Linked DNA regions of Homo sapiens: regions 1, 2 and 4 are each reported to be linked to region 3. The links are microRNA targets in miRTarBase. Many come from high-throughput screens and were not tested one by one. Region 3 holds a microRNA gene; each other region holds the end of a gene's coding sequence.

Region 1 (7,000 bases), not on the chromosome of region 3:
CATAATCTCTAACATAATGACGGGGTCAACCTCGTGGGGGTGTTGAACCAGGGTGAAGTGAGTGTGCGGTGCTCAGTATGTTCCTGCTCGTGGGGGTGGAGGGAGCATCGAGTCAGTTGCTCCACCTTCCACCCTCCCTTAACCTCGGCCCTCCTTTCCTGAGAGGTTCCCTGTGGTCAGCTTGTGGTCGGGGAGGTCAGCACAAGGGAAGTGAGAAAGGGAAGTGGCAGGAGCCTGGGGAGGGATTCAGGAGGGGAATGGGGTCTATCCATTGTTCCATGGGCCCAGCTGGGGACAACACCAGGGTCTGGGGTGATTAGGAGGGAATAAGCTGGGCCATATTCCATCAGAGAACCCTCAGGCAGATAACACCCCCCTTCTGGAGCCTGTTTCCCCTCTGTAAAATGTGCTCACAGACAGCACCTACAACATAGGTAGGGTGTGTTGCAAAGATTGCGAGTTAAGCTTTTGTTTGTTTTGTCGAGATGGAGTCTCACTCCGTCGCCCAGGCTGGCGTGCAGTGTCACGATCTCGGCTCACTGCAACCTCTGCCTCCCGATTTCAACCAATTCTCCTGCCTCAGCCTCCTGAGTAGCTGGGATTACAGCCGTGTACCACCATGTCCAGCTAATTTTTGTATTTTTAGTGGAGACAGGGTTTCACCATGTTGGCCAGGCTGGTCTCGAACTCCTGACCTCAGGTTATCCACCTGCCTTGGCCTCCCAAAGTGCTAGGATTACAGGCGTGAGTCACCGTGCCCGGCCAGGAGTTAAGCTTTTGGAAAGTCTTTAGAACAGTGCCTGGCATATAGTAGGTGCTCTGTGTTTGATAAATTTATTCAACATTTATTGAGCACCTACTGGATGCCAGATGCGGTTCTTAGCATTAGAGCAGAGAATAGGACAGACAAAAATCCTGGCCCTCGAGAAGATGGATAACAAATGTTGCCCCTCCTCACAGAGGCCTTCCCCATACCCTTGTCTGGCATCCCTGTCACTCTCTAGCCCAGTAGCTTCCAAACCTGTTTTTTTGTTTGTTTTGTTTTAAAGAGACAGAGTCTTGCTGTCACCTGGGCTGGAGTGCAGTGGTCTGATCATAGCTCATTGCAGCCTCAAACTCCTGGGCTCAAGTGATTTTCCCACCTTAGCGTCCCCAAGTAGCTGGGACTACAGGCACACACCACCACACAACTAATGTTTTTATTTTCTGTATAGATGGGGTCTCGTTGTGTTGCCCAGGCTGGTCTCAAACTCCTGGCTTCAATATTTTCTCCCAACCTCAGCCTCCCAAAGTGCTGGGATTACAGGCATGAGCCATCACACCAGCCCTTCTTTTTTTTTTATTTTTTTATTTTTTTTTTATAAACCCTAATGAAACTCCAGGGCCCACTTTAAAATTTTTATTTTGCTTTTAATTAACAAAAAGAAGCACAAGAAAGATAGGAAGGCAATGCCTAATTTCCTCTGCTCTCAGGGAGGCAGAGGAATTCTGCAAATTCAAATGTAATAATTTGGTCAGCTGTTAAAACAGAAGTTCTTCAGGAACACTTGTTTTATGGGCAGTAAAGTATGTGTTAATATCTGTATCCATTACAGACATACTCTGTTCTCTGATAACATAAGGCTATCCTTGAAAATGTGCTTTGAACAAAGGAGTCTTATTAAGATTCTACGACTTCAAGACAATCATTGCTGTGTTATCCTGTGAAAACACTCTCCAAGAGACCTGAAACTGGCCAGGCATGGTGGCTCACGCCTGTAATCCCAACACTTTGGGAGATTGAGGCAGGTGGATCACCTGACGTCAGGAGTTCGAGACCAGCCTGGTCAACATGGTGAAACGCCGTCTCTACTAAAAATACAAAAATTAGCCAGGCGTGGTGGCGGATGCCTGTAATCCCAGCTACTTGGGAGGCTGAGGCAGGAGAATCGCTTGAACTCGGGAGGCAGAGGCTCTAGTGAGCTGAGATCGTGCCACTGCACTCCAGCCTGGGCGACAGAGTGAGACTCTGTCCCAAAAAAAAAAAAAAAAAAAAAGAAAGAAACCTGAAATTCTGGCTGGCTTCTTTATTTAACCACCTGTTGCCCTGGTAATAATATTAACAATATTTCCTTTGTTTCTAAACTGTATAAATACTCATAGGATTCCCTGTGGAAGAGGACTGTCAGCACTCTATCTTTTCCCACACGTTTAGGCAATAAAATGACTGCAGATTCCTTAAACAAAGAGTGAGAGTCTTGTCTTATTTAATTATTACATCCCTACCTGCTACTATGTATTTGCCTGCTTCTTGTTATTCTCACTCCCTAAATATCAGTTCCACAAGGGCAGGGATTTTTGTCTGGCTTGTTAACTGCTGGGTCTGCAGGGCATTAGATAGGCACCAGGAAACAGTGGATGCTCAATAAACATCTGCTAAATGAATCAATCAATGAAATAAACAAAACTTTAGAGATTACGATAAAATGCCAGAAGGACAGTCTGAGTTAGAGGTAAAAATGTGGGCATCCCATGGAGGATAAGTAGTATTTCAAGTGTGAAGACCTGGATAAGATGACCTAGAGAGGATGCGTGAGAAGAGAGAAGGGAATCCCAGGGCTTTGCCCTGGGGAACCCCAGCATTTCAAGTTTTAGAGAAGTAGGAGAAGCCAGCCCAGCGGACTGAGCAGGAGGGGCCTGTGGAGGAACAGGAAAAACAGAAGAGGGTTTTTCTCCAGGGCCTGGAACATTCGAGGGTCTGCAGGGCATTAGACCTCTCACACAGTCTCATTTGGTCTGTTATTTTCTCTCTCTCTCTTTTTTTTTTTAAACCTATCTACACAGTTATGTTTTTCTTTTCTTTCTTTTCTTTTCGAGACAGGGTCTGGTTCTGTTACCCAGGCTGGAGTGCAGTGGCGTGATCGCAGACTACAGCCTCAACCTCCTGGGCTCAAACCATCCTCCCACCTCAGCCTCCCGAGTAACTGGGACTACAGGCACACGCCACACCTGGCTAATTTTTTAAACTATTTGGAGAGACAGGGTTTTGCCACATTGCCCAGGCTGGTCTCAAACTCAAACTCCTGGGCTGAAGCGATCCTCCCAACTCAGTGTCCTCAGTAGCTGGGACTACAGGCATGCACCACTATACCTGGGTAATTTTGTTTTTTGTTTTGGTAGCGGCAGGGTCCTTCTATGTTGCCCAGGTTGGTCTCAAACTCAAAATCCTGGCCTCAAGTAGTCCTCCCACATCAGCCTCCCATGTAGCTGGGATTACAGGTGCACAACACTACGTTATGCTAATTTTTTAAATTTTTAGTAGTGACGGGGTCTCACCATGTGGCCCAGGCTGGTCTCAAGCTCCTGGCCTCAAGTGATCCTCCCACCTTGGCCTCCCAAAGTGCTGGGATTACAAGCATGAGCCACCGCACCCAGTCCGGATTTACAGCCTCTACTATATTCTCTTAATCACACAGCCTCTCAGACATTCTGTCACTCATAGTCATTTTCTGTGTCATGGATTCCAGCCTTACTACAGTCTCCTAACAGTTTCACACACACAATCATGTTTAACAGCCTGTCTCATTCAGTCAATATTGCCAATAGTTTCTCTCACCAGTCAGTTCCTTACATACACGTGCAGTCACACAATCTCATGAAACGTTTAGGCACTCATTTGGCCTGTTACTTTCTCACATACACAAATAGTCACTGATTTATAGTCACCACTAACTAGTCTCTCATGAAGTTTCCCACACATGCACAAAAATCACCTCTCCTACCCCTTTCTCACTCAAGCCACTTTTTCACACACCCACGATCCCTGATTACAGCCTCTCCCACAAAGACATTCACACGCATACACAATCACACAGTATCTCAGACACTGTCGTCACCTAGTCTCACGTTTCTTCTCAATCAGCTTCCAGTACCCTCAGTCCTTGATTTACAGCCTTTCATAAAGTCTCTTGCAAAGGGTTTACCCATGGACACACAATCCGTTTCTCAGCCACTGTCTCAGTCATCACTGTCCCTCAGTCAGCTTCTGATATACTCGGTCAGTATTTCACAATCACCACTAGGCCCTCGATAAGTCACCCACAGTCACCCATGCCCTCTCAGTCGTGCACACCGTCATTTTCTTCATATGGTCAGCTCATCACGGACACACGTGCACAGCTTTACAAGTTTCTCACACACTGTCACGTGGTCACTTGGCATGTCTCATTTGCTCAGCTCTTTTGTATGGCCCCTGATTTATGGTTTCTTATGAACTGTTTCACAGACCCCCTGGTGCTCTGACATCACTCAGTTGTCAAGTTCCTCTCCCACAGTTTCTGACTTCCAGTTACTGCTACTGCCAAGTCTCTCATAAACAGTTCCTTGTCCCTCTCCCTTGCATGCCCAGTGATGTGGTCTCTCACACCATGTCAGTGGCTCCGTCCGGCTCACCGTCATTTTCTCTCCTACTTTCTCACAGTCCCTGAACCTGTGGGATAGACTGTGGTAGTAATGGTAAATCGATTTGCAACTAGTTTCAGGTGTACACACACACACACACAGCCTGTCACACTCTCCCAGTCACAGCCATTCGTTTTTCTCAGTCTTTGCTGCAGTCTCTCACGCCTGCTTTCGTACACACAATTGCACCTTCTTGTATCTTTGGTCTCGGTCACTGGTTTGGTCTCCCAGCCATTCTCTCCCGTACAATCAAGTTCGCACCCATACAGTCTTACAGCTTTAGCTGACACTACAGCCTCAAGTAAACAGTTTTGCACATCATCTATTTCTCAAACGTTGAGTCGCCTACAGTGAGGTTTGTCACCTACACAATCTTTGCCACAATCCCTGACAACCTCTACTGTAGTTTCATGCCCACGTAGTCTCTCACATGTGGTTTTGGTCACCCAGTCTGTCTTGCTCGCCATCAAACAGTGACAGGGCTGCAGTCCCCGTTCCCTTCTCGTAGACATTATTTTGTGCATACCATCACAGGTTCTTGTACAGTACCTTGACTATTCATCCAGGCTCAGTTATTTTCTGAAACACAGCCACAATTTCCCACATAGACACACCATCAAAAGTCTGTGGTCACAACTTCTGCACACTCTCACACACAATCACAGCTTTCCACGTCTCTGACACACACATGGTTACCGATATGCAGTCCCTACTATTGTTTCTCACACACGCCATCACACCGTTTCTCTCACAATCGACCTCTGCCTCACACCCTCCACACACAGTCATGCGTGTCACGCTCAGCTAGTCCTGACAACATCAGAGAAAAAGTGCCAGCAGCCTCCAGCATCACTTTGAAAAATATATATTTACAGGAACAATTCCCCATTCTCTGGGACTCTTTAGAAAAAAAAAAGGTCCATTTTGGGGAAGTAAAACAAACAGTGGAGACGAGTGTAGCACTGTCCCCCAAATCACCAACCCCCAGGTCCCAAGGCCTGGGCTGGGCCAGCGCTAACAGGTGAGCCCAGGAGTCTTTTGAACCCACTCTCTCTTGCCTAGAATAGAGACAGGACAGGCTTTATGTCCCCCATTCCTCCCTCCCAACTCCAGGGACATTGAAAGGGTCCTTTGTACCCGCCCGCAGGAAATTGGGGGGCTGGGAGGGAGGGAACTGAAAATTCATGTTTGGTATCAAAAATAAACACTTGGAGTGGGGGAGGCGGCAGGAAGATTCCCCCCCAAATCCCTTCCTTCCCACCCACCCCACCAAATATAGGAAGAGATGACTCCCTCTCCCCTATTGAAAAGCCCCATTTAAAAATAGATTATACTATCAAAATGGCAGCGGGGGAGAGACAGGGAGACCTGGAGTACTGGCTGGAGGGGCCCCCCAGACGGGGACCACCCCCCAAAAAAACCCTCCATTGGGAGGAAACAGGCAGGACCCCAGGGAGGTTGGCAGACAAAGGAATGGCTTCTCAGGGGGAAGAACAAAAGGGACATTCCTCCCTGGCCAAAAAGTTGGTTGAAAAGGATAAGCTGTCTGAGAGAAAGGTTGGGGAGGTGGAAATTTCTATTCCAAGGGTGTGATTCTTCCTTGGCCAAGACTCCCAACCCATTAAATGGTACAAATTCTTCCTGGACCCCTGAGTATGGCCAGGAATAATAAAACAAAACAAACTAACTCTTCTACTCACATCCAAAAACGCAGACAGGGCTCCCTCATCTCCCCAAGGGCAGGCTGAGAAATAAAGAAAGAAAGGTCGTTCTCAAGCCAGACCTCGATTGTCTTGTCTTGGGGAAAAAAGTGGGGAGGTGGGGGAGATGTCCTAACCACCCTAAAAGGTTAGGTCAGGCTCCTCCCAGTGGCCTTCAAAAAATAAATAAATAAACCGCCCCTACCATTGAAGTAGGAGACGTGTAAGGGCGGCCACTGGGGGACTGACAGAAAACAGAGAAGTTGTGGAAGCTGTGTGTTTTCTGTGGAGGAGATAATGAGAGTTACTCTTGGGAGTAATTCTTCCCAAGGATCCCCACCCCACCACAATCAGAGCATGAGTCTTTCAGTTGAACTATGTTTCTCCTTGAGATGGCTGGCTGGAGAGAGCATGGATGGAGTGACCCCAGAAGGGGTGGTGGTGGTGGTGGTAGTAGTCATGGCTTCTGGGGCCCTGGGGAGAGCACCACGGGGGTCGAGAGGCCATCCACGCTGATAGAAGGGATGTGCACCTGGGCGCTGCCACTGGATGGAAACTGGGGGCAAAAAGAGGGAGAGGTCACAGATGGGGGCCATTCTTGGGTCTCTCACCCTGTCCAAAACGGGGAAAGAGGATCCTACCTGGAAGGAGAGCTTGGCCGGGCTACGGGGCGCAATGGGACTCAGGGTGCTCCAGAAGTGAATGCTAGGAGGCAGCGAGCTGGGTGTCAGCAGCACCGGGGTCTGTGGGGAGAGGGTGGTCGGAGCTCAAGTGAGTAGAAAGTAGATGTGGGATGCTGGAAGGGACTTGGTCCCGGCCCCACCACAGATTTCCCACTCACACTCCCAGGGTCACTCCCC
Region 2 (7,164 bases), not on the chromosome of region 3:
GGGAGCAGATTAACCTACCATGCACCTAGGCACTTTTCCAAGTGCTGGAGTACAGTGGTGAATTACTGCTCCCATGGAGCTTTCATCCAGAAAGGGTAGACAGATGAAACAACATACAGGCACAAAAGGGCACATACACACTCTCAAAACCAGAATGCCGCGTTGCAGATAAAATGTTCCAAGGCAGCACTCTCCAAGTTAAGCGTTCAGAGCAGTCTGGTGTCTGCACTGAATATTTCCCTACAATATCGCAGGGAACCTTCTTATAGTCCGCATCTCAGGCATTTACTGCGAAGTTTTTACAAGTAAAATGACGAATACAGTATTTGTTCTTGATGTATATAATACTGAATGCACTCTACAAAAAGTGTTTCAAATAAGAAAAAAATAATTTGTCACAGGAATACTTTAGCAAAGTGATTTACTTTTTCCCCGTTTCATACTGCACATAGGGATATTATTTTTAAAGCCTAATTAGATAAATATATCTAACTTGCTCAACGTGCTCTTCCTAATCATCTCATCCATGATAGTATAAATAAAAGCCAGTGATTGCCTGGGTTACAATTCTTAGTGCCTGAAAAATAATGTGGCATTTTTATAATTAATCCATAATGTTGCCAACTTGTTTGTTTTTCTGCAGTAGAATAGACTCCACTAGTAAAGGAATTTTTAATTCTTGATGTAAACATTAACCTGTGCCATGTGAGCTAGTCTTACATTCCCTTCCCCCAGTTGTGGGCTCATTTAATGAGCCCTTTCCTCTCTTTTCCAGGGTGCTGATAAGACTGTGAAAGGCCCAGATGGACTGACCGCCTTTGAAGCCACTGACAACCAGGCAATCAAAGCTCTTCTCCAGTGATGGATGGATGGACTGATAACTCCGGAAGAATGACTCTCCTGTGGCCTCACACTGCTGCCTGTCTGTCTGTCACTCTCTATCTGCCAGCTTCTTCAGCTAAATACTTTAAGAGGGGTGAGGGGAGAGAGAAATTCATAACAAATCCGACTACCAGAAAAAAAAAATTGTTTTGGAGGAGGGGCAAAAGGAACCATGATCAGGCTTTTACTGGGATTCCTGATCAAGTAAGCCTCTTCCCTTTCTAATAAAATATACACCTTATACCCAAGGGAGAGCAAAGACAAAATACACCAGTAACATTTGACCTTTTCAGCTCCCTAGCTAATTTATTAGATTGTGTTGAAGGTCTGATTCTACAAAGGCCAACTCTACATATTTGGTAGCCCTAACTGTCTGAGCAGTAGTGGCTGCTGTGATGTAAACTTAGGGTGCTGAGATAAGCAATTAGCTCTAGCCTTCTGCCTTAAGAATGCACTCTACTGGGGATTTCCTGGCATAGTTAAGAGCGCTGCCTATAAGGTTGGTGACCAAATCTTTCCTCGGTGACTTTAAGCTTTATGTGAAAGCTTAGTTAAGGTGAGGAGGGGCACACTCCTAAATTGCTGGATGACTGAACTTTGGATTTTCTCTCCCCTTTCACATGGATTTCATGTCTCTTTAGATAAAACTGACTAGTTTTATTTATAAAATCTTAAGTTTTGGAAGTCTAAAGGAGAAACCATTCCAGTATGCATATTTTTTTCTCCTCTAGATTCATACATTTATATAGCATTGAAACACTTTCAAACTCCTGCTGGTAGTAAAAGGGGATTTAAAAATAGAATCATAGCCATAAGCCTGTTAGTATCATATGAAGAGAGAACAGTTATCTTAGTACCTATGGATTTTCTTTATTTGCTGTTTGAATGGATTGACCTTGGTTATGTGTTGAGAATTAAGGAACATTCTTTGAAATGCCTCTCTCAGACCCATCTTGGAGGCTGATTACTTACTGCACCAAAGCTATCACTGGGGTGAGATTTACTGTTTGGACAAATTTAGCCCCATCCCTTCAAAAATACACTTGTAACCAGGTTTCCCAGAGTTGTTGATAGGCTTCTGCTGAACATATGCCAACCCACCTGCATAATATATTTTTGTTGCTTTTATAAATCATGCATTACATAAAGTGTGACAACTTCAAAATGTATTCTCTGTTCTTGGAATACAGTGCCCTAAAATGGTGTTCTTATGACCTGCAGAAAATATTTACACATATTTCCAAATATTTATTTCATGAGCAGTACAGCTAATTAAAATATATAAGCTTAAATTTTATATCTTACATTTAAAATATTAAGATTCCTTTGACTTGCCATCCATATAAGCTTGCTAAAAATATTAAGACCAAGTCATGCAATAATTGAATGTACCTCAAATTTTTAGGGGAGGGTGGGTTAGGGACTGATACTCAGATTGTGGATAATAATTGAATTGGTTTTTAAAGGCAACATAGCATTCTACAGCAGGGTTAATCTATTATCAAGAACAGTCACCCTGGTTAATAACAAGTTTTACTGATCAGTTGCTGGTTGGTTGGTTGGTTGGCATGTGGGTGTGTGGGTGTATAGGTGTGTGTGGGTGTGTGTGTGTATTTTTCCCCATGAGTCCTTTTTTTAATCCTGTGGCTTTTTCACTTACAACTAGCCTAACCCTGTAATTTTCCTACATCCAAGAAAACAATCACAAAGTAGTGGTTTAAATACTTTGTTGTATTTGGCTAATTTTGCTGTCTTAATGCAGCCTATTAAGAGTTGGGTTAAAAATCAGTAATCAGTACTTTATTACATCACTGAACTAAAATATGGAGACATCCTCATTGAAAATGGAGGGCACTCTATCAGTCTATAACTATCAACGTAGTGCAACAGGGTGTTTTGATACCTTTGTTTTCACCTCTTGACATAATGCTATTTAAAGGCTTGAATTTTTCCCTTTATATAATTTTCACCTTTACTTTCAAAGTGTTTTGTTGTAGTTGGCTATTGCAGAGAGTGCATTGTCCTATCATTCCTAAACCTGGTCTGCTTTCTACATTCATGGTATGGAAACCATGTGATTCTTTGTACAGTTTATCCTGATGTTGCTTGTAATGCAGTAGAGGCTATTTCGCCTTCGCTTTTCTTTCTCGACCTTTTTGTAAACCCTATAATTATGAAGCGATTGCTTGAGAAAATAACATATAAACATAGAATAGAATAGACTGACCAAGATGGTTCACAGTTTCTTTTTTTAACTAGGTTATTTATAATGTATTTCTGAACCACTTGGCAGACAAATTCACAACACTTAATGTTCATATTTTGAGTAAAGGAAGCTAAAACCATGTTTGCTTTCTGGTACTACATGCATTAGCGAAAGGTTAAGTAAGTTTTGTTCTCCACTGAAGTAATACTTAACATCTCAGAAAAAATTTTGCATGTTCTGTAGTTTTGTATTAAATCAGTCATTTCATATGCACTATATCAAGTACAAACAGGTAGTTTACCTGTTTATAGTAGTGTACTAACAAAGTCTCCCTTGCAGCTTCAGACTGTTATCTATAGGCTTATCGTTCAAATACAGCACTTGAATATCCCAAGTAGTTCTTCTACGCATAGCTCACCTTTCTAAACCCAGTTAAGCATGGAAGAGAGGTAGTAGGTAGGTGCAGTGTGTGGAAGCTGCAAACAAGTAGGCCTTTTATTCATTGATATCTTTTCCCAAGTACTGGATTTTAAATCTGTATGTATCTGTTTGATTTTTTTTTCTAATATTTCAGTTGAGCTGCTGTTTTCTTCCATGCAATATTGTATACTCAATTGTGTATAGAAGAAGCTGGTGAGAGTGCCCTCCTACATAAATAAGCAATTGCAGTGTTTTGCATGCAAAATATAAAAAATTTAAATTGTCCTGATTCTATTTTGTAAATGGAGAAACAATCATATCTTTCTAAGCGGTAATGGAGGAAGACTAGTGCTTTGTGCATTTTGATATATTTGAGTTCATTTTTTCCACAATGTCATACTTTTGACGCAGTTGGGTTTCTCATAAGTATCCTAGTTCATGTACATCCGAATGCTAAATAATACTGTGTTTTAAGTTTTGTGTTGCAAGAACAAATGGAATAAACTTGAATTGTGCTACAGCTAATGTGTCAGCAGCATTTTTCTCAGTTATTATCACCTTCCTTTTGTAGTCATCTCTACAACTATACCAGAAGCTTGATTGACTCAAACATTTAGTTAATCTTATCCCACTTCTAGAAAAAAATGAGTGGAGGGAAAATAAAACATAAAGATTTAATTGAAATAAACCTTACCAGTCTTTGAAAGGATTTGCTTTTGTGTCAGTCTCCTGACATTGTTTTACTGTAACTTCAGTAACGCTCCTGGTTGACGGGGAGCAGGGTGTAGCCAGCACATCCCAGATCGTCAGGATCTTCAGGGGGCTTGAAGAAAATGGAGTCGTGGTTAAACCTCTGATCCTTTCATTGCTCATCTAAGTTGCTCCACATTTCTTGGAGATCTGCATTTCCCAAACTCAACTACGAGCACTTTTTTAGAGTGTAATTTTCAGGATGAGTGATCACTTTGAACCTTAAAACTGAACAAAATTAAATACAAAATCAGTTTGATTGTGTTGTAATCTTGTTAGCACCAGAAGACTATTGCAGTTTACTTTTAGTGATAGAAAAAAAATATATATGTGCAGATACTAAGTTACAGCAAAAGCTGTATTTTAGAACTTTCACATTGTTGACTGAAGTATAAATGGGGACCATGTACGGCTTTAGGTGGAAGTGATTACAGAAATTTTTTTAAGTTCTCATTTTAAGAATTGGAATCTAGGACCGGCGCAGTGGCTCACGCCTGTAATCCCAGCACTTTGGGAGGCTGAGGCAAGGAAGATCACTTGAGCCCAGGAGTTCGAGACCAACCTGGGCAACAGAGGGAGACTGAGTCTCTACAAAAAATTAAAAAACAATTAGCTGGGTATGGTGGCAAGTGCCTGTAGACCCAGCTACTTGGGAGGCTGAGGTGGGAGGATTGCTTGAGACTGAGAGGTTTGAGGCTACAGTGAGTGAGCTGTGTTTGTGCCACTGCACTCCAGTCTAGGCGACAAAGCGAGACCCACTCTGAAAAAAAGAATTGGGGTCTGTAAAGAAAGTTTAAATCTGGTTAAATACATTTTAAAGGGAATAGAGTCCCCTTATATAATGATTGAAGAACAGACCAGCATATGTGGATGGAAGGCACACACCTGGTGGAAAGAAGGAGCTTAGAGGGAAATTAGTTTGCCATTAGAGAATAGCTGTCATAGGACTTTTCATGCAGCACAGTATACCAGACCACCATAAGATTTTTTTTTTTCTCTTTCTGTAGCATCAGTGATTCTCAAAATGTGGTCTCTACACCAACAGCATTGCCATAACCTGGAAGCTTGATAAAAATGCAAGCTTTTGGACGCTAGCCAAGACCTACTGAATCAAACTCGGGCTGGACCCAACAGTCTATGTTGTAACAAGCCCTCTAGGTGATTCTGATGCGTGCTGAAGTTTGAGGACCATTGAATAAGACCATAAGAGCAAGAAACAGTCAAATAGCCTATAAATAGATGCCATCAGGCATGACTTCCTAAAGAGAAAGTAAATGGAAGCCTTTAACATGTGAAATGTAGCAAAACTGGCCAAGTTTTGAAGCTCCAGATGTCCAGGAAAATCTTTAAAAATGAGTTTCAAAGGTATATTCTGGCCAAAAGAAGTCAGGGTGAAATGTAACAATGGTTCCAAAGGTGTAATACTGGTGAAAATGACCCTTAGTTATTCTTAGGAGGTTTTTCCGCCTTATGTCCCCAAAGCTGGATTCCTGAGACTCAAGCCTTACCCTTACCTTACCTTTCCTTGAATTCCAAAGTAAAGTGGAAGGTGGAAGCCAGGCACAGTGGCTCACGCCTGTAATCCCAGCACTATGGGAGGCCAAGGTGGGCAGATCACTTCAGGTCAGGAGTTTGAGACCAGCCTGGCCAACATGGGAAAACCCCATCTCTACCAATAATACAAAAATTAGTTGGGTGTGATGGCGCACGCAGCTCCTTGGGAGGGTGAGGCACAAGAATCGCTTGAACCCAGGAGGCAGAGGTTGCAGTGAGCCGAGATCGCACCACTGCACTCCAGCCTGGGCAACAGAATGAAACTGTCTCAGAAAAAAAAAAAAGTGGAGGGCTGGGAGAGACATGTAAAGAATTCTTGGGACCTATGACATGAACTGCAGTCTCATGCTTTTTATATGCAGGTCATTGTGGGGTGCAGGACTGGCAGGCAGAGCCACTCTGGGAGGAAGTCAAAGGCTGCTTTCTCAGCCCAATGCCCCGTTTGCTGTCACAGTGTGCTGTGAAGATGGATTCCCCACTGCAGTGGGTGTGCTGCTGGCTTGGAAACAGCAGCCTTGGGGTGGCCAGGTTCCCTGGAGTGGAGTGTCCCAATTTCTCTGCACAGTGGAGTGGCTTTTGCCCTCCGTTTTTCTTTATGGGTGGCCACTCATCCTATCCAACTAACTAGGTCCTGTGTCAGGTCAACGATCTTACCCAGATACCAGCCAGATCATCACACATCAGCCATGGGATATTTTTCTCCAAGGCTTTTACTTCCTTAAAATATGATTGCTGATTGAGAAGAGAGAATTTAACAACAGCTTTAATAGCACCTGGCCCTCAATAGACATTTCACTGTGTTTGTTCTGAATGATGACGTAAAACCATTATACAGTAAAATGTGAAAACAGCTTTGATTCAGTAAATCCTGCCCTAGAAAAGACTATTAGAAGAGCCATGAGGCTACCTGTGTCCATGTACCCAAATATTGACCATGGAGCCTCATAAGTACTACTGATATTGATTGCAAACTGAAATCAATGATGTGAAGACAAATATCACAGAGTCACAACAATTCACTGAGGAAATGCTGAGCGTGGGTCAAATGCAGGTCACTGTGAGACATCATGACACATACTCAGGCACAGCTATACATGACAAAGCAAAACAAAGCATTGTCTGGCCACTCCAGCAACTTCTATGATTCAGCAGCTGAAGCAGCAAGGATGGTCTTATTTCCACTGTTTTGATAGAACAGTGGATCACGTGTCTGGCAACACTCGTAGCAACAGCATCTTGTCACACAAAGGAAAATAATACATAGACAATTCCTAGCCACCAGATGTTGGTTTTGAGAATACTACTAGATAGACTTTTTTTAAATAAGCTATATTTTTCTTCTTTTTTTTTTT
Region 3 (7,164 bases):
TGAAGGTCAGTGGGATTAAACAGCTTTCTCTAAGCCACACAGCTCATGAGTAAATTCAAAACCGGGTCTGTGTAATTTCAAAATTCCTGCTTATCTCACTCCAAACACTGCCTCTCCCTGGTCTGCACACAATGGTCTGAGTTCTAGGTTTCCGGCCTCACAGAGTAACTCTCATCCATCTTCTACCTGACAGTCTTTCAGAAATGAAGACTTTCCAGAAGCCAGTGGTCAGTCTGACCCTTTACACCGCCACTGTGGCTGTAATGTGCTTCTCCACAGTGTTTTGGCCTGCTCCAAAGTGGCTCATGCAGACCCTGCCTCTCCTCGCTACTTTCACACACAGCCTAAGAGGTGGCGTCATCACACTCCACAGCATCTCACCCATGACGGCGTCCTCGAGCTGCACAGACTGTGCGTCCGTCCTCAAAGGACAAAAGGCATAGGTCCATAGAGCTGCTGTCCAAAAGCATCACAAAGGGAAGCCAGCAAGCACTGCTTTCTATCACAGGGGAGAAGTTCCCAGCTGATTGCTGGCAGTGCTGCCACTGTCTTTTGCCCGTCAGAGGGTGAGTCAGAGAGAGGACTCAGGAAAACCTACTGTATTAGGCCATTCTCATGCTGCGATTAGGACAAACCTGAGATTGGGTAATTTATAAAGGAAAGAGGTTTAATTGACTCACAGTTCTGCAGGGCTGGGGAGGCCTCAGGAAACTTACAATCATGGTTGAAGGGGAAGCAAACACGTCCTTCTTCACATGGCAGCAGCAAGGAGAAGAATGAGTGCCCAGTGAAAGGGAAAGCCCCTTATAAAACCATCAGCTTTCATGAGAACTCACTCACTATTATGAAAATAGCATGGGGAAAACCGCCCCCATGATTCAATTACCTCCCACCAGGTTCCTCCCACAACATGTGGGGATTATGGGAACTACAATTCAAGATGAGAAGTGGGTGGGTACACAGCCAAACTATATCATCTGCATAGCAGGTGGCCTTGTCTCCCCATTCCTGGGCTCCCCCAGGGCAACCTGTCCCCCATCCCACTCACGAGGCTTCCCTCTAGGAAGCCGCTAAGAAGAGACCTGCCACCCACCTGCTTGCTCCACTTTGAGTGGGAACCACACCAGGGTCAACCTCAGAAACATCTGAAAAGTTGGAAGTAAATTCAGCAGTCTAGCAAAAGCAGTCTTCTGCAACTGAGGAATCCAGGTTGAGCGCTGCCATGACCTGTATTTGAAAAGCTGCCACCTTCCAATCAGGCCAGAGTTAAAGAGCAATTTGAAAAGAGCAAGAATTTCCAAGCTATAAAACTAGGGACATGATTCTAAGAGGATAAAACATTTTAAGATTGGTTTAAAAGCTTTTGAAAAATTTAAGGCCAGGCATGGCAGCTCACATCTATAATCATAGAGCTTTGGGAGGCCGAGGTGGGAGGATTGCTTGAGGTCAGGAATTTGACACCAGCTTGGGCAACACGGGGAGACCCCATCTCTACGATTTTTATTTTTTTTTTAATTAGCTGGACTTGGCTGGGTGTGGTGGCTCATGCCTGTAATCCCAGCACTTTGAGAGGCTGAGGCGGACGGATCACAAGGTCAGGAGTTCCAGACCAGCCTGGCCAATATGGTGAAACCCTGTCTCTACTAAAAATACAAAAATTAGCTGGGCGTAGTAGCACATGCTTGTAGTCCCAGCTACTCAGGAGGCTGAGGCAGGACAATCACTTGAACTTGAGAGACAGAGGTTGCTGTGAGCCGAGATCGCGCCACTGCACTACGGCCTCGGTGACAAAGTGAGATTCCATCTCAGAAAAAAAAAAAAAAAAAGCTGGACTTGATGGCATGTGCCAGTAGTTCCAGCTACTAGGGAGGCTGAGGTGGGAGCATCACTTGAGTCCAGGACTTCAAGGTTACAGGGGCTATGATTGTGCCACTGCACTCCAGCCTGGGTGACAAAGCGAGACCCTGTCTCTTAAAAATTTTTTGTTTTTAAATTCAAACCCAGTTTTCCTCAGGACTCTTATTAACAGCTATCTAAGGAATAGGAAGGGATGCCCTCAAACCGGGCAGAACGAGATGGAATTCTAAGTCATTTTGTCTTTTGCATTTCTGAAAAGACTTTCATTTTTCAAAGGACATCAAAACTGAAATGCCTTATAAATCCCTTTGTGTTTCTGCGTTCTGTTCAATGGCATCAATAAGATGGATGATCAGCAAATGGCATCAAACTCCATTTGTATTCTTATTAGAATAATAACACGTAAAATGATATGAAATGAAACAGCAGATTCCAATGACCTTGTAGCCCAATTCAATTACTATTTCACTAAATAACGACAAAACTGACAGTCCTCAAGCTGCTGAATTTATGAATTAAATTCAACTTCTCTTCTACATTCTGAGCAGGACTGAGTGGAAAAAGAAATGGTCAGTGAGGACTGGGGAGGAGTTTCCTTCTCTTTGCTATTTAATGCAACATCGCCAAGCCCACTGGAGGGAGGGGTATGGAAAGACAGTTTAAAAAGGAATATCAGGACCAGAAGGGAGAACTGATGGCCAGGGCCCTTGCTATAGTTTGCTCCTGCAGATGAGACACTGCTTTGGAAAATTTTATCATTAACCAAACTGCACTGATGCTAAAAGTCAATAAAGCCAAGTATTAAGTTGGAGCAAAAGTAATTGCAGTGTGTGCCATTACTTTTAAATGGGAAGCACTGCAATTACTTTTGCACCAAACCAACAGCATCAATCTTGCCTGCATCTTAAGCAAAGGCTTAATGAGAAAAAAAACATACTTGAGACTACTAAAGCATTATACAGTCAGTCCTCATTACTAGCAGATTCTGTATTTGTAAATATGCCCATCACCTAAAATCTGTTTGTGACCCTCAAATTAATACTCCCAAATGTTTGCAGTCATCATAGACATGGCAGGACAGTGGACAACTGGAGTTTCCCAACAAGCACGTTCCCAGGTGGCGTCTAACTAAACAACACTCTGCTTTTTTGTTTCAGTTTTCATACTGTAAGGAAGCACCCTTTCCACAGTCTTTTTAGTGCCACAAGTTTCGCATTTTTGTGTCTTTTTGTGTCTGTGTGTGCACCTGCATGCGTGTATGTGTGTGTGAGTGACTTCACTATTTAAAATGGTCCAAGCCAGGTGCAGTGGCTCATGCCTGAAATCCCAGCACTTTGGGAGGCTAAGGCAAGAGAATTGCTTTGTGACAGGAGTTCAAGACCAGCCTGGAATATACTAGTCATGTTCATTGGGGAATTAAGACCTCAAAAACATAGCCAGACCCTGCCTCTACAAAAAAATAAAATTAAAAAATTAGCTGGGCATGGTGGCGTGTGCCTGTAGTCCCAGATATTTGGGAGGCTGAGGTGGGAAGATCACTTGAGCCCAGGAGTTTGAGGCTCCAGTGAGTTGTGATTGTGTCACTGCACTCCAGCCTGGTCAAGAGGGCGAGACCCGGCATCTACAAATTTTTTCTTTAAATAAGAAAAGAGAATAAATTTTAAAAATAAGAAATAAAATGAAATGGCCCTTAAGTATGGTGTGGAAGTACTATTTGGCATTCCTAGGCTCAAGAAGGCTGTGATACACCTTACACAAAAAATAAGTGCATTAGATAAGCTTAGTTCAATGCTAATGAATCAATAATATATATTTTAAAAGGTGTCTTCAAACAAAAACACAGGTAAAATAAGGATTTTTGTTGATTGGTTGATAAAAAGGTAACCAAAGACTCACAGGAACCTAACCCTGTATTTCCCCTAGGAAATTCAGTATTAACTAATAAATTCAGGACTCACTAATGCAGTATTTAGGGCAAGTTTATAGAACATCAATACTGTGAATAACAAGAATTGACTGTATTTTCAAACTGCAGTAAAAATGCCATAAGTATGTAAAATAGGACTTGTAGGAAGACAACAAAGTATATTTAGATGTAGCAGGTTCATCTTTTTTACTTTTTTTGCAGATGTGAGAACTTGACAATTTCTAACCACTGGACTTAGAATGGAGAACACAGCCAATCTGGGTGACAGAGCAATATTCCGTCTCAAAAAAAAAAAAAAATTAGCTGGACTTGGTGGCATGCACCAGTAGTTCTAGTTACTTGGGAGGCTGAGGTGGCTGGTCATGAACTCCTGACCTCAAGTCTCCCAAAATGCTGGGATTATAGGTGTGAGCCATTGTGCCTGGCCAGCAATGGCAATATTTTCTTACTACCAACTCTCAGAAAACATACATTATTCTCCATAATTATCCAATAAATTTGGACCCATCTGAAAATAAGCATCAGTCACTTTTCAGTTTATACATGTATGCTATTAGTCATTACTCTGGTAATATGTGAAATGTAAATCATTGCCTTATTACTTACTGGATATGGGCTGTTTTTTGGTTGAGGTATGCGTCTAATTTATTGGTACTACATTAGAAAATGCCCTACACCAAATATCTGCTCTGATTGGACTAAGATCCTACATTTTTATATTTGGGAATATTGCTCAACTTGAGAAAGGCAAGATGTCCCAATCCCTGCAACAGTAACTTGGACTTTTTTTTTTTTTTTGAGACAGAGTCTTGTTCTGTCGCCCAGGCTAGAACACAGTGGCACGATCTCGGCTCACTGCAACCTCCATCTCGTGTGCTCAGGCGATTCTCCAGCCTCAAGCCTCCCGAGTAGCTGTGATTACAGGCATGTGCCACCACACCCGGCTGATATTTGCATTTTTAGTAGAGACAGGGTTTCACTATGTTGGCCAGGCTGGTCTCGAACTCCTGACCTCAGGTGATCCACCCACCTTGGCCTCCCAAAGTGCTTGGATTACAGGCATGAGCCATGGCGTCCAGCCAATAACTTGGACTTCTAATTAAAGATGTGACGTGGGCCAGTTATGCATAGAGGTAAGCCAAGGGCCTCTTATGTGACACCCTCACTGGACTGGGACAGATTCTGCCATGTCATTTACCTTGAGTACTCCAAAAGGAAGAACATAAAAATAATAATGTAATGAAAGTAGCAAGGGTATGTTTAACTTCAAAGAAGATCATTAATACTTAGCCTGGACTGTCTGAGAATATGACTAGAGAAAAGGGAATGAAGGAAAGAGGAGTACTTAATCTATGCTTATTGTTCAAATGCTCTTCTCTGCTCACACTTTGCAAATGTTAATAAGAGTCTGATCTCTTGATAGTAACCATAGGGAAATTTATCAGCCTCTAAACATAATTTCTCCCTTTTCTCTATCCTGAGTCTCCAATGAGTTGGGCAAAATGCAGAGGCATCTCATTCATTCAGAAAATGCCATCTTTTCTCTCTCTCATATATGTAGTGTTGCTAAAATTAACTAAAAAATTAACTAGTTTTAATTTTCTTCTTCTTAAAGGCTTCTGTCCATAACTGTCCAAGGCGCAGAAGGGCACAGACTTTTACGCAATGAGAGTCCCCTGACATTCTGCTGTCTAAGACTTCATTCTCAGAGTGCAAGGACCAGAGAAAGAACTGGGGTGGATGCTATTCCACGTTTGCTCTTTTCATTAAGACTTTTCAAAGAAGACTTTATTCCAACATGCATTTAAAAGAAAAAGAAATGAAGAATTCTTCCTTCAGGCGAATAACTCATAAGGGGAAAAAAACCCTTGAATATGATTTATTTCACAGGGATCATTGAAGAGCACGTGAAAACCGATCTCTGTTGAAATTCCGAAATACTTGTTAATGCCACCTTGAAAGAAGTAAAGAATTTCGAAGTCAGTTATTAAATAAATCCATGACTATTTGAACAGCTATCTCAATTTGGCTGGAATGTGGCTAGAATTCGAGTTATGTACATTGAGTTTGAGTAGAATGTGGCTTTGACAATGAGTCAACCTTAGTATTTTCTTCCCAACAATGATGGAGCGGCTTGGTGAATGCAGAGCTCCCTAGAGTAGCTTTTAGAACTCGTACTCTCCTTTCAACAACAGATTGCTCAGTTGAGAAGTTTTAGAACTGAATGAAAACTCAGGCATCATTTAGTTATTTGTGCAACTTGAATATTTTTTCCAATAAGATAACCAAGGCCAAAAAAATTAAGTGGAAAAAATGTCACACATCGAGTTAGAAAGTAGAACTAATCTAGATTCAAGCACTCCTAGCTACTAGTCCAGAGTTCTTATTACTAACCTGGACCTGCAGTGAGCACCACTGACATCCCTAACTGAGTAGTGACTTCCCTAGTAATCTCCCTTATCTAATTTTACTGCATAAACACATTGCTATCTGTTACAGGAATGGGATCTTAATCATGTAGAGAGAAGGGAAAACAAGGCATGAGGAACCTTTGAACCTTATTGCTAGGCTTCAAGTAGAGAGATGTCAGGTTGTCTCCCGAGTCCACCCTTCCCACCCAATTTCCTACTCTCACGAGCATCCCATGGGCTTTGGTCTCTCTGTGCCTCTTGTAACCAACCTAAAATGGAGATGCATAAAAGTGGCCTTTTATGCCACTTTTAAGTGGGCTATCTTATCTTGTATAAGGCTAGGTCATACTTTTGAATAAAACAATTTTTATTTGAAGAGGCTGGGACCAAGAAATATATATAGCTAGAATGGGCTGCGTACAGGGGGAAAGTTTATTAAAAGGCCTGCGTGTGCACAGTTTCATTATTCTCACTCTTTTTTTTTTTTAAGACAGGGTCTCACTCTGTCACCCAGGCTGAAGTGCAGTGGCACAATCTCGACACACTGCAGCCTCAACCTCCCCAGGCTCAGGTGATCCTTCCACCTCAGCCTCTCCAGTACCTGGGACTACAAGTACATGCCACCACGCCTGGCTAATTATTATAATTTTTTGCAGAGATGGGGTTTTGCCACGTTGCCCACGCTGGTCTTGAACTCCTGGGTTCATGTGATCTACCCACCTCGGCCTCCCAAAGTGCTAGAATTACAGGTGTGAGCCACCGCACCATCCTATTCCTACTCTTCTTTCCTTTAGTAAAGAGTAAGTATAAACTAACAAATTGGTTATAGTCAGAACTGAAATTAGCACTTATGATGTGGAATCTCAATCAAGATTCAGATAGCATGTTGGTTATATTGTGAGGTTTTTTCAATATATATGACCATGAAATTTCACTCCTAGGGAGGTGATTACTAAGTTCAATGTTACT
Region 4 (7,164 bases), not on the chromosome of region 3:
TTTCCTCATTTTTTCTACTGCACATAATGCTGCAGTGAACAGTTTATGCTTGTGTGTACATGCACATGTATGGAGATTGCTACAGGACAAAATCCTGGAAGTGGAGTGCTAGATGAATAGTATATCCATTTAAATAGTTGATAGATATTGCCAAATTGCCTTCTAAAATTTTTGTACCAACTCATACCCAAAAAAGCATATGAGTGCCCTTGAAGGAAAAGGGTTCTTAAAATGTTGAGCAGGGAGAGTAAAGAAAGTTGAAATGTAATTTAAGGGTGAGGTGAGCCACCTGCTTTCATCCAGCCTCTGATCTCTGCTTCACTGAGCACGCCTCTGCTGGGCAAAGAGTAGGAGCCTGTTGGGACAGATCGGTGGGTCCTTGCTCCAAGAAGGAAGTGTGGCTCATGGGCCACACTCTCAGACATGCAGAAACTGTAAAGGAAGGAGACACAAGCTAAGAAACCCGGGCTGGCACCTCTGCACAATCCTGGAGCCTGCCCGTGCCCTGGCTGGCACTGGGCTTTGCTGAAATCTAATATCTTGTTTCTTTTTCCCTTCTGTAACTAATGAGCAGGATGACAAGTACTGGGCAAGGCGCAGAAAGAACAACATGGCAGCCAAGCGCTCCCGCGACGCCCGGAGGCTGAAAGAGAACCAGATCGCCATCCGGGCCTCGTTCCTGGAGAAGGAGAACTCGGCCCTCCGCCAGGAGGTGGCTGACTTGAGGAAGGAGCTGGGCAAATGCAAGAACATACTTGCCAAGTATGAGGCCAGGCACGGGCCCCTGTAGGATGGCATTTTTGCAGGCTGGCTTTGGAATAGATGGACAGTTTGTTTCCTGTCTGATAGCACCACACGCAAACCAACCTTTCTGACATCAGCACTTTACCAGAGGCATAAACACAACTGACTCCCATTTTGGTGTGCATCTGTGTGTGTGTGCGTGTATATGTGCTTGTGCTCATGTGTGTGGTCAGCGGTATGTGCGTGTGCGTGTTCCTTTGCTCTTGCCATTTTAAGGTAGCCCTCTCATCGTCTTTTAGTTCCAACAAAGAAAGGTGCCATGTCTTTACTAGACTGAGGAGCCCTCTCGCGGGTCTCCCATCCCCTCCCTCCTTCACTCCTGCCTCCTCAGCTTTGCTTCATGTTCGAGCTTACCTACTCTTCCAGGACTCTCTGCTTGGATTCACTAAAAAGGGCCCTGGTAAAATAGTGGATCTCAGTTTTTAAGAGTACAAGCTCTTGTTTCTGTTTAGTCCGTAAGTTACCATGCTAATGAGGTGCACACAATAACTTAGCACTACTCCGCAGCTCTAGTCCTTTATAAGTTGCTTTCCTCTTACTTTCAGTTTTGGTGATAATCGTCTTCAAATTAAAGTGCTGTTTAGATTTATTAGATCCCATATTTACTTACTGCTATCTACTAAGTTTCCTTTTAATTCTACCAACCCCAGATAAGTAAGAGTACTATTAATAGAACACAGAGTGTGTTTTTGCACTGTCTGTACCTAAAGCAATAATCCTATTGTACGCTAGAGCATGCTGCCTGAGTATTACTAGTGGACGTAGGATATTTTCCCTACCTAAGAATTTCACTGTCTTTTAAAAAACAAAAAGTAAAGTAATGCATTTGAGCATGGCCAGACTATTCCCTAGGACAAGGAAGCAGAGGGAAATGGGAGGTCTAAGGATGAGGGGTTAATTTATCAGTACATGAGCCAAAAACTGCGTCTTGGATTAGCCTTTGACATTGATGTGTTCGGTTTTGTTGTTCCCCTTCCCTCACACCCTGCCTCGCCCCCACTTTTCTAGTTAACTTTTTCCATATCCCTCTTGACATTCAAAACAGTTACTTAAGATTCAGTTTTCCCACTTTTTGGTAATATATATATTTTTGTGAATTATACTTTGTTGTTTTTAAAAAGAAAATCAGTTGATTAAGTTAATAAGTTGATGTTTTCTAAGGCCCTTTTTCCTAGTGGTGTCATTTTTGAATGCCTCATAAATTAATGATTCTGAAGCTTATGTTTCTTATTCTCTGTTTGCTTTTGAACGTATGTGCTCTTATAAAGTGGACTTCTGAAAAATGAATGTAAAAGACACTGGTGTATCTCAGAAGGGGATGGTGTTGTCACAAACTGTGGTTAATCCAATCAATTTAAATGTTTACTATAGACCAAAAGGAGAGATTATTAAATCGTTTAATGTTTATACAGAGTAATTATAGGAAGTTCTTTTTTGTACAGTATTTTTCAGATATAAATACTGACAATGTATTTTGGAAGACATATATTATATATAGAAAAGAGGAGAGGAAAACTATTCCATGTTTTAAAATTATATAGCAAAGATATATATTCACCAATGTTGTACAGAGAAGAAGTGCTTGGGGGTTTTTGAAGTCTTTAATATTTTAAGCCCTATCACTGACACATCAGCATGTTTTCTGCTTTAAATTAAAATTTTATGACAGTATCGAGGCTTGTGATGACGAATCCTGCTCTAAAATACACAAGGAGCTTTCTTGTTTCTTATTAGGCCTCAGAAAGAAGTCAGTTAACGTCACCCAAAAGCACAAAATGGATTTTAGTCAAATATTTATTGGATGATACAGTGTTTTTTAGGAAAAGCATCTGCCACAAAAATGTTCACTTCGAAATTCTGAGTTCCTGGAATGGCACGTTGCTGCCAGTGCCCCAGACAGTTCTTTTCTACCCTGCGGGCCCGCACGTTTTATGAGGTTGATATCGGTGCTATGTGTTTGGTTTATAATTTGATAGATGTTTGACTTTAAAGATGATTGTTCTTTTGTTTCATTAAGTTGTAAAATGTCAAGAAATTCTGCTGTTACGACAAAGAAACATTTTACGCTAGATTAAAATATCCTTTCATCAATGGGATTTTCTAGTTTCCTGCCTTCAGAGTATCTAATCCTTTAATGATCTGGTGGTCTCCTCGTCAATCCATCAGCAATGCTTCTCTCATAGTGTCATAGACTTGGGAAACCCAACCAGTAGGATATTTCTACAAGGTGTTCATTTTGTCACAAGCTGTAGATAACAGCAAGAGATGGGGGTGTATTGGAATTGCAATACATTGTTCAGGTGAATAATAAAATCAAAAACTTTTGCAATCTTAAGCAGAGATAAATAAAAGATAGCAATATGAGACACAGGTGGACGTAGAGTTGGCCTTTTTACAGGCAAAGAGGCGAATTGTAGAATTGTTAGATGGCAATAGTCATTAAAAACATAGAAAAATGATGTCTTTAAGTGGAGAATTGTGGAAGGATTGTAACATGGACCATCCAAATTTATGGCCGTATCAAATGGTAGCTGAAAAAACTATATTTGAGCACTGGTCTCTCTTGGAATTAGATGTTTATATCAAATGAGCATCTCAAATGTTTTCTGCAGAAAAAAATAAAAAGATTCTAATAAAATGTATTCTCTTGTGTGCCAGGAGAGGTTTCAGAAACCTACCTCGTCTTACAAATTTAAACACTTTGGAGTCTGTACAGGTGCCTTATATGTAGGTCATTGTCACGATACACACACACGAACACTCCCTCTGGACTGGCTGCCTCTCCATCCAGGGCAGTTAACTAGCAAACAAGGCAGATCTGCTTCATGGAGCGGGAGGCCATGGCTTGACTCTGAGTGATTTGGGTCAACCGGAGTCAGACGCATGTCTGCACGCTGCAGCTATTATGAGAGTCCCTTTGTCATTTTTCACCTTTTCATCCTAAGCATCTTTCAGAGATTAATTATTTGGCCATTAACAATGAATCCAAATCATATCATACTGACATCATCTAGACATGATTTGGAAGGAACAGCTTAGGACCTCCTGATGAGGTCACATTGTTGTTTCTTTTAACTAGACTTGGCAAAGAAAGGCAAAAATTGACCAGCCTATCTTTCTGCTGGTGCTGCCTTAAGGAGGTAGTTTGTTGAGGGGAGGGCTGTAGATCATTACTTCTTTCTCTTCAGGAAGTGGCCACTTTGAACCATTCAAATACCACATTAGGCAAGACTGTGATAGGCCTTTTGTCTTCAAATACAACAGGCCTCCACTGACCCATCCCTCAAAGCAGAAGGACCCTTTGAGGAGAGTACAGATGGGATTCCACAGTGGGGTGGGTGGAATGGAAACCTGTACTAGACCACCCAGAGGTTCCTTCTAACCCACTGGTTTGGTGGGGAACTCACAGTAATTCCAAATGTACAATCAGATGTCTAGGGTCTGTTTTCGGAAGAAGCAAGAATTATCAGTGGCACCCTCCCCACTGCCCCCAGTGTAAAACAATAGACATTCTGTGAAATGCAAAGCTATTCTTTGGTTTTTCTAGTAGTTTATCTCATTTTACCCTATTCTTCCTTTAAGGAAAACTCAATCTTTATCACAGTCAATTAGAGCGATCCCAAGGCATGGGACCAGGCCTGCTTGCCTATGTGTGATGGCAATTGGAGATCTGGATTTAGCACTGGGGTCTCAGCACCCTGCAGGTGTCTGAGACTAAGTGATCTGCCCTCCAGGTGGCGATCACCTTCTGCTCCTAGGTACCCCCACTGGCAAGGCCAAGGTCTCCTCCACGTTTTTTCTGCAATTAATAATGTCATTTAAAAAATGAGCAAAGCCTTATCCGAATCGGATATAGCAACTAAAGTCAATACATTTTGCAGGAGGCTAAGTGTAAGAGTGTGTGTGTGTGTGTGTGCGTGCATGTGTGTGTGTGTGTATGTGTGTGAATAAGTCGACATAAAGTCTTTAATTTTGAGCACCTTACCAAACATAACAATAATCCATTATCCTTTTGGCAACACCACAAAGATCGCATCTGTTAAACAGGTACAAGTTGACATGAGGTTAGTTTAATTGTACACCATGATATTGGTGGTATTTATGCTGTTAAGTCCAAACCTTTATCTGTCTGTTATTCTTAATGTTGAATAAACTTTGAATTTTTTCCTTTCTTTCATGTATTTTTATTAACAGTTGGCTAGCAATGGTATTCTGTTCCCACCTCGGTAGCAAAGAGACCATTTGTAGAGATTATTACCTAGATAATAAAATGATAATACTATATAATTAGTAATAAATTAACATTTATTGGGTAGTTATGTGCCAGACACTGTGCTAAACACTTAGATGGAATATTTTATTCCATATTAGCTCTATGAGGTAGGGACAATTATTATCCCCATTTACAGAAGACAAAATGGAAAGTTAGGAGAGTCACGTAGCTTACCTAATGTTACAGAGGTAAAAGTGGCTGAGATGAATTCTGATCCCTGGAGTGGGCATTATTTAGAGGGGTGGTTCCCAAAAGCCAGTCCACAGACTGTCTTGTTCTCTAATATATAAAGAATAATTCAGCAACATCTAGGAGTATAAATCCAGAGATTCTGAATCAGTAGTTCTTGGATGGGGCCCAGAAATCTGAATTTTTAAACTGATCCCAGCCAACTTCCATCTGCAGCCAAGTAATTGGTGTCAAGGATTTATAGACTTGGCTCTTAATTCAAGTTCATGACCCTTGGGGGATCCACGCAGAGGCTTCAGAGATGCCATAATTATCTGAAATTGTATGCAACTTTTTATGTATAAACATTTATTTTGCTGTAGAGAAGACTTGTAGCTTTTTTTTTTTTTTTTTTTTTTTTTACTTCCCTAAAGGAACCTGTGATGCAAGGCGGAATAAAACCCCTGATTCATGTAAGAAGGCTGATGTAGAGCAGTGGTTCTCAGCCCAGGGAGCCCAGTAGATTCACCTGGGGAGCTCAAAACCGGCTGTGTGGGGCTGCAGCCCAGGCCAAGAAACTCAGCATCTCCGGCATAGTGAGAAGGGGGCTCTGTGTTGAGGAGTACAATTCTGGATTCAAATCTGTCACCTAGTGGGTATGTGACCTTGAGCAGCTTCTAAACCGTTTTGAACATAATCTCATCTGTGACATGAAGGTATACTCACTTCTGAGGGTTGTGGGGGGAACTAATGACAACAAATGAATTGTCTCTGGCACATCCGAGGCCTTCAACAGATAACTACATGGGGCCCACGAGAGTAGAATGGATGCCTTGAGCATTTTTCCAATTCAATATTTCAGACTATTCGTTCCTTCAGAGAGGACGGAAAAGAATTCCCCTGCTCATATGCCAGAGCAGGATGGCTGATGGTATGGGAATGGGTGGTAGAGACGTTGTTTCATAGTGTGACTTCACCAACAGTTCATAGACTAGCGCCAGCTTTGTGCACAAGGTCGATGGGCATCTCTTACTTGGTGACAACCTCTAGTTAAAATTGAGTGGTTACAAGTTAGGGTTCAGCTCTATTTTCATCCATCAAACACCTTTCACCTTTTTGTTGTTGTTGTTGTTGAGGTGGAGTCTCACTCTGTTACCAGGCTGGAGCGCAGTGGTGCGATCTCAGCTCACTGCAACCTCAGCCTCCTGGGTTCAAGCGACTCCTGCCTCAGCCTCCCAAGTAGCTGGGACTACAGGCACGTGCCACCATGCCCAGCTAAGTTTTGTATTTTTAGTAGAGGCAGGGTTTCACCGTGTTGGCCAGGATGGTCTCGATCTCTTGACCTCGTGATCCACCCACCTCGACCTCCTAAAGTGCTGGGATTACAGGCGTGAGCCACTGCACCCAACCCACCTTTCACCTTTCTCAGAGGAATAAGAATAGTGACCTTAGCTTAAGAATAGTGACCTTAGCCTAAGATTCTTCTGGGGCATCTTCAAATCTCTTGGAGGAAATGACTTCATGCCTGGAGAGCATTTGGATCCGAGATGGCAAGAACTGATATGAAGCCAAGCTGCGTAGACTCCCAGTCATACACAAGTCCTCAGTCCCTGGGGGCCCATCACATGCTGCATGTAGGATGGCTCTTCCATGCACACTTAAGCATAAGATGCCACCCAATCAAGCCCCTCTCTTCAAAGCATACAACTTCAATTTCCTTGTTGAAAATCATTGGCTTAGAAGTCTCTTTGGACATCTTTAGCTAGGAACTGGGTGAGAACTTTGAAATCTTGTCTTTGTGGTCAGAAGATGGCTTCTTGCTAATAAATCAAAAGGACCCTTTGGAGGAGATAGGACTAGTCAAAGGTGGCAAGCATCCTCTGCCTCTCTGGGTTTTGAGTCAGGGAGGACTTGGATCC

The links. The annotated mature microRNA hsa-miR-603 reads CACACACUGCAAUUACUUUUGC and lies in region 3 at 2,669-2,690, opposite strand. An mRNA with a match to its seed (bases 2 to 7 or 8) in the 3' UTR can be bound and repressed. Matches are read on the target gene's strand: a 7mer-m8 pairs with bases 2 to 8, a 7mer-A1 pairs with bases 2 to 7 and ends in A, and an 8mer does both.
Region 1: miRTarBase lists ELK1 as a target of hsa-miR-603. The part of its 3' UTR that is shown has no 7-base or 8-base seed match.
Region 2: miRTarBase lists MTPN as a target of hsa-miR-603. Seed matches in the 3' UTR shown: 7mer-A1 at 2,489-2,495 and 7mer-m8 at 3,553-3,559.
Region 4: miRTarBase lists HLF as a target of hsa-miR-603. Seed matches in the 3' UTR shown: 7mer-m8 at 1,485-1,491, 7mer-m8 at 4,701-4,707 and 7mer-A1 at 4,736-4,742.

The regions. Positions count from the first base shown.
Region 1 is chrX:47,630,232-47,637,231 of GRCh38, forward strand. It overlaps ELK1 (ETS transcription factor ELK1), which reads right to left. Exons shown (of 7, transcript NM_001114123.3): 6 at 6,782-6,883; 7 at 5,290-6,696. The coding sequence ends at 6,598. It also overlaps a transcript of CFP not described here. Among named protein-coding and RNA genes, the nearest start is that of CFP, 3.8 kb to the left of the region's middle.
Region 2 is chr7:135,923,624-135,930,787 of GRCh38, reverse strand. It overlaps MTPN (myotrophin), which reads left to right. Exons shown (of 4, transcript NM_145808.4): 4 at 776-4,028. The coding sequence ends at 862. Among named protein-coding and RNA genes, the nearest start is that of MTPN, 50 kb to the left of the region's middle.
Region 3 is chr10:24,271,271-24,278,434 of GRCh38, reverse strand. It overlaps MIR603 (microRNA 603), which reads right to left and starts at 2,750; the gene lies at 2,654-2,750. The region is part of intron 2 of KIAA1217; the gene reads right to left.
Region 4 is chr17:55,320,090-55,327,253 of GRCh38, forward strand. It overlaps HLF (HLF transcription factor, PAR bZIP family member), which reads left to right. Exons shown (of 4, transcript NM_002126.5): 4 at 575-5,098. The coding sequence ends at 790. Among named protein-coding and RNA genes, the nearest start is that of HLF, 59 kb to the left of the region's middle. RefSeq lists an enhancer at 589-1,089.